Homo sapiens: one gene and its partner. The protein of the gene in region 1 binds, or shares a complex with, the protein of each later gene. Each region holds a gene or a part of one and is shown on either strand. Other genes may lie near its edges. The genes, in order: OBSL1 and CUL7.

The links.
Region 2: OBSL1 (region 1) and CUL7 share a complex: the UniProt entries of both Homo sapiens proteins name them as parts of the 3M complex.

Annotation. Positions count from the first base shown.
Region 1 is NC_000002.12:219,550,062-219,554,654, reverse strand, and holds the end of OBSL1 (obscurin-like protein 1 isoform 1 precursor), read left to right. Parts: coding exon 1-181; intron 182-968; coding exon 969-1,081; intron 1,082-1,630; coding exon 1,631-1,787; intron 1,788-1,957; coding exon 1,958-2,119; intron 2,120-2,438; coding exon 2,439-2,543; intron 2,544-2,856; coding exon 2,857-3,126; intron 3,127-3,369; coding exon of another isoform or gene 3,370-3,413; exon of another isoform or gene 3,414-3,786; coding exon of another isoform or gene 3,787-3,812; coding exon 3,813-3,820; coding exon of another isoform or gene 3,821-3,830; 3' UTR 3,831-3,927; downstream 3,928-4,593. UniProt on the Homo sapiens protein: Core component of the 3M complex, a complex required to regulate microtubule dynamics and genome integrity. It is unclear how the 3M complex regulates microtubules, it could act by controlling the level of a microtubule stabilizer.
Region 2 is NC_000006.12:43,043,632-43,050,912, reverse strand, and holds part of CUL7 (cullin-7), read left to right. Parts: intron 1-514; coding exon 515-653; intron 654-753; coding exon 754-950; coding exon of another isoform or gene 951-977; intron 978-1,250; coding exon 1,251-1,506; intron 1,507-2,343; coding exon 2,344-2,581; intron 2,582-2,659; coding exon 2,660-2,765; intron 2,766-2,923; exon of another isoform or gene 2,924-2,936; coding exon of another isoform or gene 2,937-2,966; intron 2,967-3,805; coding exon 3,806-4,033; intron 4,034-4,311; coding exon 4,312-4,402; intron 4,403-4,505; coding exon 4,506-4,677; intron 4,678-4,821; coding exon 4,822-4,927; intron 4,928-5,230; coding exon 5,231-5,326; intron 5,327-5,510; coding exon 5,511-5,686; intron 5,687-5,766; exon of another isoform or gene 5,767-6,027; coding exon 6,028-6,161; exon of another isoform or gene 6,162-7,281. UniProt on the Homo sapiens protein: Core component of the 3M and Cul7-RING(FBXW8) complexes, which mediate the ubiquitination and subsequent proteasomal degradation of target proteins. Core component of the 3M complex, a complex required to regulate microtubule dynamics and genome integrity.

The DNA of each region.
Region 1 (4,593 bases):
GAAGGTGTGACCGGGGAGTGGGCCCGGGGTGGAGTACAGCTGTATCCAGGACCCAAGTGTCACATCCACTCGGACGGCCACCGTCACCGACTGGTACTCAATGGCCTGGGCCTGGCCGACTCAGGCTGTGTCTCCTTCACAGCGGATTCCCTGCGCTGCGCAGCCAGACTCATTGTGAGAGGTGTGGCCTCCAGGACCACAGCCTGCCTGCTGACCTGTGTGGCCCTACTTACCCCAGGCATGAATACTGACCCCCAACTCGTGTGACCCCCACTGACCATGCCTGTCTCAGTGTGGCCCTCATTGACATCCCTGCCAGAGTGTGATCCCCCTGACTCATAGGCCCTGTGTGGCCCCAGAGTCCTCTGCCTGGGTGTGGCCCCTGACTGCCCAAGGCTCAGCCAACCACTGACTCTGCTACCAAGAGCATGCCTTTGCCATTGTGGTCACTGCTGTCTGCCCGCCTGCACACCACCCCACTGACCACTCTAACTGTGACCCTACTGGCTACACTGTCTGCCGTGGCTCCCTCTGCCCGCCTAAGTGTGGGCCCCGTGACCACTCCAGTCCCTTGAATCCACTGACTGCCTACGGGCGACATCACTAGCAAGTCTGCTTGAGTGTCCCCCATTTTTACTTCCAGTCCCAGGATGTTCCCACTGACCACTCCACTGGCATCTCTGCTTGTTTCCCCATTGCCCTCTGGCCCCCAGCTTCTCCCCCACTGACCACCTTAAAGTGTGACTCCCAGTTGGCCACTCCTAACCCATTGGCCCTGTGGCCCTGCCCACCTACATCCCCCCCACCCCCACCACTGACAGATCCTTCTTGGACCACTTGTCCCAGCTCGAACCCCACTCGCTAGTGTCCTCTACTGCCTGTTGTGCCCAAGTGTATGTCCTCCTTGTCCCTGCAAGATGGGTCCCCATCCTGCTCCCTCTGCACTGTCCTCCCTCTCCCACCCCCAGAGGTCCCAGTGACCATCGTGCGGGGGCCACACGACCTAGAGGTGACCGAGGGCGACACAGCTACGTTCGAGTGCGAGCTTTCCCAAGCTTTGGCTGATGTTACCTGGGAGAAGGTCAGATCCCAGCCCCAGCCAAGCCCACTTCAGTGTAACACCAACGATAATAATGCCCCAGACAGAAACAGCTAATATTCCTTGAGCGGATGTGCCTGGCACTGTGCTAAGATTTGCATTATATTTAATCCCTTACTCCAAGGACAACTCTAGGAGGTAGGTCTTGTCACTGTAATACCTATCAGGAAACTGATGCTCAGTGGGAAAAATTACCTACCCAAGGGCAGACAACAGGTAGAGCCCATATTCGAATCCAGGTTTGCCTAACTCCAGAATCCGTGCCCATGTCCCCTGTGATCGATACCTGGCTCTGGGCTTCCCGAGTGCCTTGGCGGCCCTAAGGTCCCCAAAGGGTGACGCTTTTTCAAAGAGGCTCCTGGCACGACCCCAAAGGCTTGGGGACAGTCCGACCCCAGCCTGGGAACACGAGACACGCATAAACGCGCCTCGAGACCGCTTGGCATCAACAAAGGGTGCGCCGCCTGCCAGGGCCGGGGTCGCCTGTGCCCAGCCGGGCTCGCCCCGACCCTCTGCAACTCCCGCCCCTAGGACGGGAACGCGCTTACGCCTAGCCCGCGGCTCCGGCTCCAGGCCCTCGGCACGCGCCGCCTTCTCCAGCTGCGACGCTGCGGCCCCTCGGACGCCGGGACCTACAGCTGCGCGGTGGGGACGGCCCGCGCCGGACCGGTCCGCCTGACCGTGCGCGGTGGGTACGGGGTGATGTGGAGGCTGGGCACTGCTTTGGGCGCGAGACTTGCGGAGCTGTCTTCCCCGGACCCTGATGACCGCGCGTGCTTCTAGAAAGGGGGCGTGGAGGGGGCGTGACCGGTAACTGCCCTCTGCCCCGCCCCGCTCACGCCCCGGGCTCCGCCCCAGAGCGTACTGTGGCGGTACTCTCCGAGCTGCGGTCGGTGAGCGCCCGCGAAGGCGACGGCGCTACGTTCGAGTGCACCGTGTCGGAGGTCGAGACCACGGGGCGCTGGGAGCTCGGAGGCCGCCCGCTGAGACCCGGAGCCCGCGTCCGCATCCGACAGGAAGGTCTGCCCGCCTGGTTACCCTTTCGGGCCCCTCGCTGCCCCGCCCAGGCTCGAACAGATCCCGCCCCACCGGGACAAGCCCCGCCCCTGGCTCCGACGGGCCCCGCCCCACGGCCCTGTGAGCCTCGTCCCTGTTCTTTCCCCCGCCCCCAGCCCCTAGTCCCGGACCTCTAGGCTTCCCGCTCCGCATCCCTGTTCCGCCCACCCTAGCATACACTAACGGCGTCCGAACCGACCCAGGGGCCTGCTGGGCCCCCACCTTCGTCCCCAACGCTCCTCAGAGGTGGCTCCGGCCTCGCTAGCGACCCCCTCACCCCCAGGGAAGAAACACATTCTGGTGCTTAGCGAGCTGCGCGCCGAGGACGCCGGTGAAGTCCGCTTCCAGGCGGGGCCCGCCCAGTCCCTGGCTCTACTGGAAGTGGAGGGTAAGCACCTGGGGTGGGAGCGACAGAGAGTGTACATCCTGTCTCTCCTGCCATGGGACTGACGGACTTGGGGCTGGCCCCAAGAACGCTGCCTCTCTCTTCCCTTCCCCCCGAGGGGCTCTCCTGGGCCGGGTCACAGAGGGCAGCGCGTTTCCCCGGCAAGAGGAGACTTTGGGTCTGAGGTGCAAGGGAACGGACTGGTGGCATAGAGGGCTAAGGCCAGGAGTGGAGACTTCAGGGAGGGAAGATGCATCTCTCCTCCTGGGGGCCATGCGTGTCCCTATTAACTTAAGCCCCCGCCCCCTACCCCCAGCATTGCCTCTCCAGATGTGCCGCCACCCCCCTCGCGAGAAGACCGTTCTGGTGGGCCGCCGGGCGGTGCTGGAGGTGACTGTGTCCCGCTCGGGGGGCCACGTGTGCTGGCTGCGGGAGGGGGCCGAGCTGTGCCCGGGAGATAAGTATGAGATGCGCAGCCACGGCCCCACCCACAGCCTGGTCATCCATGACGTTCGACCTGAGGACCAAGGCACTTACTGCTGCCAGGCCGGCCAGGACAGCACCCACACACGGCTGCTGGTAGAGGGTGAGTAAAGCCAACTGGGCAGCGGCAGGAGGGTGAGGGCGCCTGGGAGCTGATGGGTTAAGCCACACCTATGGGAGGCTTTCCAGAACTTGGGGTGGCAACGGGTCCTGGGATACGTAGGAGGTGGGGATGGGGGAGGGGAGGGGTAGAGCACACCCAGGGCTGGAAAGCCCTGGAACTGCTTGGCTCAGATCAGCTGCTCCTGGTCAGCTGTTCCCACCTTTCTACGCCCCTTCTTGCCAGGCTTCTCCTCTCTCCTGCCACTGGACCATGTTTGTCTCTCTTGAACAGCCCTGTTTCTACCAGTTCCTTTCCTCCCCACTTCACCAACACTGCCTTCCTCCAGCCTGTCCCTCCTCCTTCCTGCCCTCTGCCCAGCTTGCCTCTGCCCATCTCAGCAAGTTCCATGTCAGCCTTGGCAGAAGCCTCTTTCTTTCCTCTTCCCCATAAGAGACATCCCACCTTCTATCCCAAATCCCAGCATTCCCTTCAGGTGCCGCGCTGTGCCCCACCCCTAGCTGACCCCCACCTTCCTGCCGCCAAGACAGCCCTAACCAAGGCCCAGAAAGGGTAGGGCAGAACCTGGGGGCCCAGCTCTTTGTGTACTGGTGTCCAGGCTCTGCCAGGGGAGAGGAAGGTGGTACCCCCTTCTCTCCCCAGCCCCATGTGGAGTCATTCCTCTGCAGGCAACTAGGAGAACCTAACCAGGCCAGGCGGGTGCCCTTGGACAGCTTGGAAGGCGTTTGCCCTTACCCTGGGCAGGGGTAGAGAGACAAGGAACAATAAAAGTGCTACAGCTCATTTCCTTGCCTCTCTGAGTGATGTGGGGGGGCAGACCTTGCCTGGAGCCCCTGTGCAGTGAGCGACACTGGGGACCGAGGGCTGTAGTGCTTGTACCTGGCCCATGAAAGTGCCAGCCACCAAAGACCACCATTCCTGGCAGAGGCCACACAGTTTGGCACATTTATAAAAGATGTAAAACAGAGTGGGGTGGGGGAGACAGAAGCATGAGGTGTCTAGGTTGGCATGACAGACACCAGACATGCACCGTGCATTTAAACCCCTCCCCAACTCCCTTCCCAACCCAGCCCAGAGCAGCACCCCCCCACCCCCATCTCCTGCCACTGCCCTCAGGCTGGTGGCTTTACAGAGGCCAGGGGACCAGGGTGAGGGATGCTACAGTTTGCCCCATAGACAAGGACAAGAACCCTTAGATGAGTCTGGCTGCGAGGCAGGGCGATGGGAAGGAAGGTAGCCCCTCCGCGGAGACATGCAGGAGGTGGCCCATGGGACCTTGGCAGGGAGTGAAGAGGTGGGGCTGAGCCTGGAGAAACCCTACCAGTCAGAAATCTAAGGCAAGGGTCCCAGCGTCCCCTCCAAGCCTGCCCACCCCCACACACATACACACAGACACACGGGCAACACACTCACAACCCTGAGCACACCCCAATGGGGTTCACACCCCGA
Region 2 (7,281 bases), on another chromosome or scaffold:
GCTGGGACTTCTATATGGGGGGGCTCCAGCAGGCCACCCAAAGAGAAAGCTTTAGGTAAGATTGGAATGGTGAAAAGAGTCAGTAGTTGAGAGGGGGGCCATTCTGAGAGCTGGGAAAATCTGGGTTTAGGAGGCTGTGAAGTCAAGAAGACTCACACCTGGGAAGAAACTGATATAGCCAGACTCCTCCAAAGGTCAGGGTCAGGGAGATGGAGTGGTGGAGGCCAGAAGGAAGTGTGGGGGCATAAGCCATGAAAGACAGGGTGAGAGGAGAGACAGGCCCATCCCCCAAAGGAGAAGGCATCCTGTGTGTGTGTGTGTGTGTGTGTGTGTGTGTGTGTGTGTGTGTGTGTGTGTGTGTGTATTCTCCATATGCTGCTGTTTTGTTATGTGGAGGTTTTTCTAAAACCTGGCCAGGTGGTCACCCTGAGGGCTATAGTCCTCAGTACTGGGCCACAGCCAGTCATTTGTGAGTCCTCCCTTCCCCTTCCCTCTTTCTTTCCCTATGCTCCAGGTATTTTGGGAGTCAACAGGCCGCACCTATTGGGTGCACTGGCACATGCTGGAGATCTTGGGCTTTGAGGAAGACATTGAGGACATGGTTGAGGCTGATGAGTACCAAGGGGCAGTGGCCAGTAGAGTCCTGGGTAGAGGTGAGCTCAGGGAGGAAGCAAGGGTCAGCTCTGAGCAGAGGAATGGTGGTCCTGCTGAGTTGCTAGTGACATCCTTGTGCCCCTTGGCCCATTTTCACAGCCCTGCCTGCCTGGCGCTGGAGGCCCATGACAGAACTCTATGCTGTGCCTTATGTGCTGCCTGAGGATGAGGACACTGAGGAGTGTGAACACCTGACCCTGGCTGAGTGGTGGGAACTCCTCTTCTTCATCAAGAAGCTGGATGGACCTGACCATCAGGAGGTTCTCCAGATCCTCCAGGAGAACCTAGATGGGGAGGTAGAGCCAGCCTGGAGACACTCAGAGGTTGGAGGGCTCTATTGCAAGGGCTGGACTGTATAGAGCATTTGGAAGGCTCAGGATGAAAAGTGGAGGTCAGAGAGTGGAAGGGGCTGCAGAGGAGGGGTCTGGAATTTTCAGAGGTGGGAGGGTGAGCTGTTTGGGAGGAGCCAGCTGCCAGCTGTGAGAGGATCAGGATGGAGGGTATGTGTGCAGAGAGACCCCCACCCCTACCAAGTGCTCCCTGGGGCCTCTGGGTCGGCAGGGCTGTCTGCAGTGAGAGCTTCTCCTTGATGGCAGATTCTGGATGATGAGATCCTAGCTGAACTGGCCGTGCCCATAGAATTGGCCCAGGACTTGCTGCTGACTCTGCCACAGCGACTCAATGACAGTGCCCTCAGGGACCTGATCAACTGCCATGTCTACAAGAAGTATGGGCCTGAAGCCCTAGCAGGGAACCAAGCCTACCCATCCCTTCTAGAAGCCCAAGAAGATGTCCTCCTGCTAGACGCGCAGGCCCAGGCTAAGGACTCAGAAGATGCAGCCAAAGTGGAAGGTGGGTGCCAGACACAGCAGCTGAGCTGACACACCTTCAGGGCAGTAGCACAGGAGAGATGTCTGTGCTGATTTTTATGCAATCCTTTCTGGAAGTGATGCCACCTTAGAAGCTGCAACTTAGAGAGAAGCAACAAACGGAGAAGCAGGCATTGTGTTCCCTCAAAGAATGAAGGAGGATGTAAAGTTAGAAAATTGCAAGAGAATTTTGAAGACTTAAAAAAGCCCCCACATTTAGCTTTTTCTCTTGTACAGAAACATATTCCATGCTTTGAAATAAAGGGAAGTGCTCTCCTGTTTTCAGATGAAGCTACTTTGCTATTTTAAGAATATAAAGGCCGGGCATGGTGGCTCACGCCTGTAATCCCAGCACTTTGGAAGGCCAAGGCAGGTGGATCATGAGGTCAGGAGATCGAGATCATCCTGCCTAACATGGTGAAACCCCGTCTCTACTAAAACTACAAAAAAAAAAAAATTAGCCGGGCGTGGTGGTGGGCACCTGTAGTCCCAGCTACTGGAGGCTGAGGCAGGAGAATGGCGTGAACCCAGGAGGCGGAGGTTGCAGTGAGCCGAGATCATGCCACTGCACTCCAGCCTGGGTGACAGAGCGAGACTCCGTCTCAAAGAAAAAAAAAAAAAAAGAATATAAAATTTGTCATGAAGCTGTCTTACAATGACATTCAGAGATTAGATCCCCAAACCTAACTTTTAGGGGGATTAAAAAATTTAAAACATTTTTTAGGAGAAATTAGAGAAAAAGATTGAGAGTTATGAATCTATTTCTGAGCCTTCACATTACTAACAATGGCCAACTCCTGTGACTGTCCCCTTCCTGTAGCAAAAGAACCCCCATCTCAGAGTCCCAACACTCCCCTGCAGCGTCTGGTGGAGGGTTATGGTCCAGCTGGGAAAATCCTCCTGGATCTAGAGCAAGCCCTCAGCTCAGAGGGGACCCAGGAGAACAAGGTCAAGCCACTCCTGCTGCAGCTGCAGCGGCAGCCGCAGCCCTTCCTGGCACTGATGCAGAGCCTGGACACTCCGGAGACTAACAGGACCCTGCACCTGACTGTGCTGAGGTGAGAGCATGGTGACAGGTGGGATCTCTGAGGGCAAAGGGGGTCCATGAGGCTGGCTACACATTTCTCTGCCCCCAGAATCCTGAAGCAGCTGGTGGACTTCCCCGAGGCACTGCTGCTCCCCTGGCACGAGGCCGTGGATGCCTGCATGGCCTGCCTGCGGTCCCCAAACACTGATCGAGAGGTACCCCTGCCCTGCTCTGGGGAGAGGCTGGGGGAGAGGATAAAGGCAGCCACTGGCAAGGCACACCTGCTGGGCAAGGCTCTGGAGGGCGTGATAGAGCCTTTGAGCTCTTGGTTTGAGTTTTGCTTTTAAAATTGAATTTTATTTTTTTTAAATAGGTAATACATTCACATGGTTCACAAATCAAAACGCTCTAACAAGGTATACACTGAGAATTCTTGCTCTCACCCAAATCTCTGTTCCCCCAGGGTCCCCCACACACCCCTTACTGGTAACTACTTGTATTAATTTATGTATCTTTCCCGTGTTCCCTTATGCAAATATAAGCAAACCCAAATGTGTGATCTTGCCACTCTCTTTTTTACACAAAAGGATATGGAGATATTATTACATAAAACATTAAGAGCTTCAATAGCTCCATTTTTGGCTGGGCCTGTGGGAGAAAGGGGGATGAAGGAGGCAGAGCGCCCATCACATACCAGAGTCCCCTGCAAGAGCTACAGAGAAGTCCTGGGCACAGAAGGCTTCAGAAGGGCTCAGAGAACTAGGGTCATGGTGACAGTAGGTATTTGCAGTGTGGCTATATTTTTGGCTGTTACCTAGAATTTACTTTCTAAGGCAGGCTCATTGGGTATAATACACACACAAACCCAGTCCCTGTCAGCCCCTTCCCAGCCATCCAGGTGTCTGTGCCTGAACATCTCAAAACACAGCCCTACAACTGGTTTTTGGGACAGTAGGGCCTGGATGAAAGAACCCAGGGATGCTCTCTGCCGTTTTTGCCAACATAATCAGCAGCCTAGAACCCTAGAGTAGCAGGGCATCTTGTGCCCTTTTCCATTTTGGTTTGTCTTTGGTTCTCTAACCACCTGGCTCTTGTGTCTCCCCATCCCTGTCTTTTCACTTCGTCACTCTGCCTTGCTCACTGTAGCACCCCTAGCACCCAGTACACAGAGTACACAGTGGGTACCTGCTACTGCAGGTGCCCTTGTGGCCCTCGCCCTGTCTTCATTCATCTCCTCCCTTATGTCCCCACCCAGGTGCTCCAGGAACTGATTTTCTTCCTGCACCGCCTGACCTCAGTGAGCAGGGACTATGCCGTGGTGCTGAATCAGCTGGGAGCAAGAGACGCTATCTCCAAGGCCCTGGAAAAGCACCTGGGAAAGCTGGAGCTGGCTCAGGAGCTGCGGGACATGGTGTTCAAGTGTGAGAAGCATGCCCACCTCTACCGCAAACTCATCACCAACATCCTGGGAGGCTGCATCCAGGTCAGGAGGAAGGGGAGCTTGTGGGCTTAGAGTGGCATCAGAATATGAAACCCAAGCAGTGGCGGGTAAGGGCTGTGTTCCCATGGCTGGGAACAGCAGGTGACTCTAGTGACCCTGGGGCATTTGTTCCCCTTCCCCTCTGCCCCATCTGGGCCTGCTCTGCTGGTGCTGTAGAGGAAGTCCCACTGCTGCATGGTCTCTCCTTCATCCGTGTTTCCGTGTGTGTCTCCGTGTTCCTTCTGCCCCTGTGCCCCTTCTCTCTGATGTTCTGGCTGCAGATGGTGCTGGGCCAGATCGAAGACCACAGACGAACCCACCAACCCATCAACATCCCTTTCTTTGATGTGTTCCTCAGATACCTGTGCCAGGGTTCGTGCCTGTTGCCGTGTTGCTCCACCTCCCCACACCTATGTCTGTTTCCCCTCTACACCCTACCTGACCGTGACCACCACCCCTTCCCACTTGCCCCCAGGCTCCAGTGTGGAAGTGAAGGAGGACAAGTGCTGGGAGAAGGTGGAGGTGTCCTCCAACCCGCACCGGGCCAGCAAGCTGACGGACCACAACCCCAAGACCTATTGGGAGTCCAACGGCAGCGCCGGCTCCCACTACATCACCCTGCACATGCGCCGGGGCATCCTCATCAGGTAACTCTCCCACACATGTGCTTTGCCACACACGTGTGCTTTCCTGTGACGCCCCTGTGTTTGTTTTGGGGGAAGCACCACCCCCTGGACTTGGCCATGGGCCCTGTCTACAAGTTCCAAATGGTTTTTCCTCCCCACTCCCAGGCAACTGACTCTGCTTGTGGCTAGTGAGGACTCGAGTTACATGCCGGCCCGAGTGGTGGTGTGCGGGGGTGATAGCACTAGCTCTCTTCACACGGAACTCAACTCGGTAGGACCCCAGGGCCATTAGCCATTACTCCACCCCTCACAGGATCTGCCCTCCTGCTTCTATCTGGCCCTATCCTACTTTTTTCTAACTCCCACCTGTCTTGAGCCCCACAGAAAGTAGTGTCCTTTATCCCTGTGCTTGTGCCACCAGGCCCTGAACAATGAGGGTGGCATGAGGACAGCTTTGTCAGGACCCTACACATCCCAGGGCTGGGGAAGGGAGGGAAACAGTGAGGGGACTGGAGCCTAGAGCCAACTTGGCTCTGCATGTGTGGAGGTGACAGCTTTCTCTGCCCCCTGCCAGGTGAATGTGATGCCCTCTGCCAGCCGGGTGATCCTCCTGGAGAACCTGACCCGCTTCTGGCCCATCATCCAGATCCGCATAAAGCGCTGCCAGCAGGTGGGGCCAGGGATGTGGGGTGTGGCCCTGGGTAGGGGGCTCTGAGCCCCATAAACAGGCAGATCTTAAGCCAGAGGACCAGCCTGGGTCTCGAGCAGCTCCAGGGGTGAGGTTCGAGGGCGTAGCTGACCCCAGCCCATCCCAAGGTGTGGAGCGAGTGAAGATAGTCCTGTGTGTGTTTCAGGGTGGCATTGATACGCGCATTCGGGGGTTAGAGATCCTAGGCCCCAAGCCCACGTTCTGGCCAGTGTTCCGGGAGCAGCTCTGTCGTCACACACGCCTCTTCTACATGGTTCGGGCACAGGCCTGGAGCCAGGACATGGCAGAGGACCGCAGGAGCCTCCTGCACCTGAGTTCTAGGTGTGTGAGAGTGTGCGTGTATGCTTGTGTCTGTGGGAAAGGTAAGGCTATTGCAAATAGCTGGCAGGCAGGGGTCCATAGAAGCTGTGAGATGGAGGTTTAATATGCGTGGGGAGGGGGCTGGAGTTTTCTGAGCTGTGGGAGGGGAAGAAAGGATAAAGAGAAAAGATTTCTCCAGTGGGCTGGGAATGGGATATACCAGTTAGCACAGAGCAGTTCTGAAGTACCAGGGGGCCTTCGGTTTGGGTGCTGGGGTTAGCTGGCAGTCTTAGGAAGGGTGGACACTGAGATAACATATGCTTCAAGCCCCTGACACCTTCCTCCTCCATTCTCACCCCCAGACTCAACGGTGCTCTGCGCCAGGAGCAGAATTTTGCTGACCGCTTCCTCCCTGATGACGAGGCTGCCCAAGCTCTGGGCAAGACCTGCTGGGAGGCCCTGGTCAGCCCCGTGGTGCAGAACATCACCTCCCCTGGTAACCATCCTGACATCTGGACCCATTACTATCTCAGGGCTTGGTTCCACTAATTAGTTCCTTCTTGCTCTACCCTAGAACCACCTGGATTATGTCCTGGCCCTTTTGGCACCTGCATTTGTAATCCCAGTGCTGTCTTCTCACAGCCCAGGGGCTGCCCCCTTTCCCATGTCTCTCAAGTGTCAGGGGACACCATAAGTGCTGGAGGTGCCTTGTTACCCACTCCCTTTATCATTCTTCTTTTTTTTTTTTTTGAGACAGATTTTCGCTCGTTACCCACGCTGGAGTGCAATGGCATGATCTTGGCTCACTGCAACCTCTGCCTCCCAGGTTCAGGCAATTCTCCTGCCTCAGCCTCCCAAGTAGCTGGGATTACAGGCATGCACCACCATGCCTGGCTAATTTTATTTTATTTTATTTTATTTTTTTGAGACAGAGTTTCGCTCTTGTTGCCTAGACTGGAGTGCAATGGCGCAGTCTCGGCTCACTGCAACCTCTGCCTCCAGGGTTCAAGTGATTCTTCTGCCTCACCCTCCCAAATAGCTGGGATTACAGGCATGGGCCACCATGCCCAGCTAATTTTGTATTTTTAGTAGAGATGGGGTTTCTCCATGTTGGTCAGGCTGGTCTCGAACTCCCAATCTCAGGTGATCCACCCGCCTCAGTCTCCCAAAGTGCTGGGATTACAGGCATGAGCCACCGCGCCTGACCCACACCTGGCTAATTTTATATTTTTAGTAGAGGTGGGGTTTCTCCGTGTTGGTCAGGCTGATCTCGAACTCCCGACCTCAGGTGATCCACCCACCTCAGCCTCCCAAAGTGCTGGGATTACAGGCATGAGCCACCGCACCTGGCCTTTTCTATTTTTTTATGCTTATTTCTTATTTTTAAAGATGGGGTCCTGCTATGTTGACCAGGCCAGTCTTGAACTCCTGCCTCAAGCGATCCTCTCATCTCAGCCTCCCAAAGTGCTGGGATTACAGGCGTAAACCACCCTACCTGGCCCCCCTTCCTTGTATCATTCCGTCCAGTTGCTCTATCTCCACACTCCTGTTCAGCCCAACCACTCCCACTTCCCTGCAGACATGGCTGTGCCTTGGTTTGTTTATCTCACCCTCTA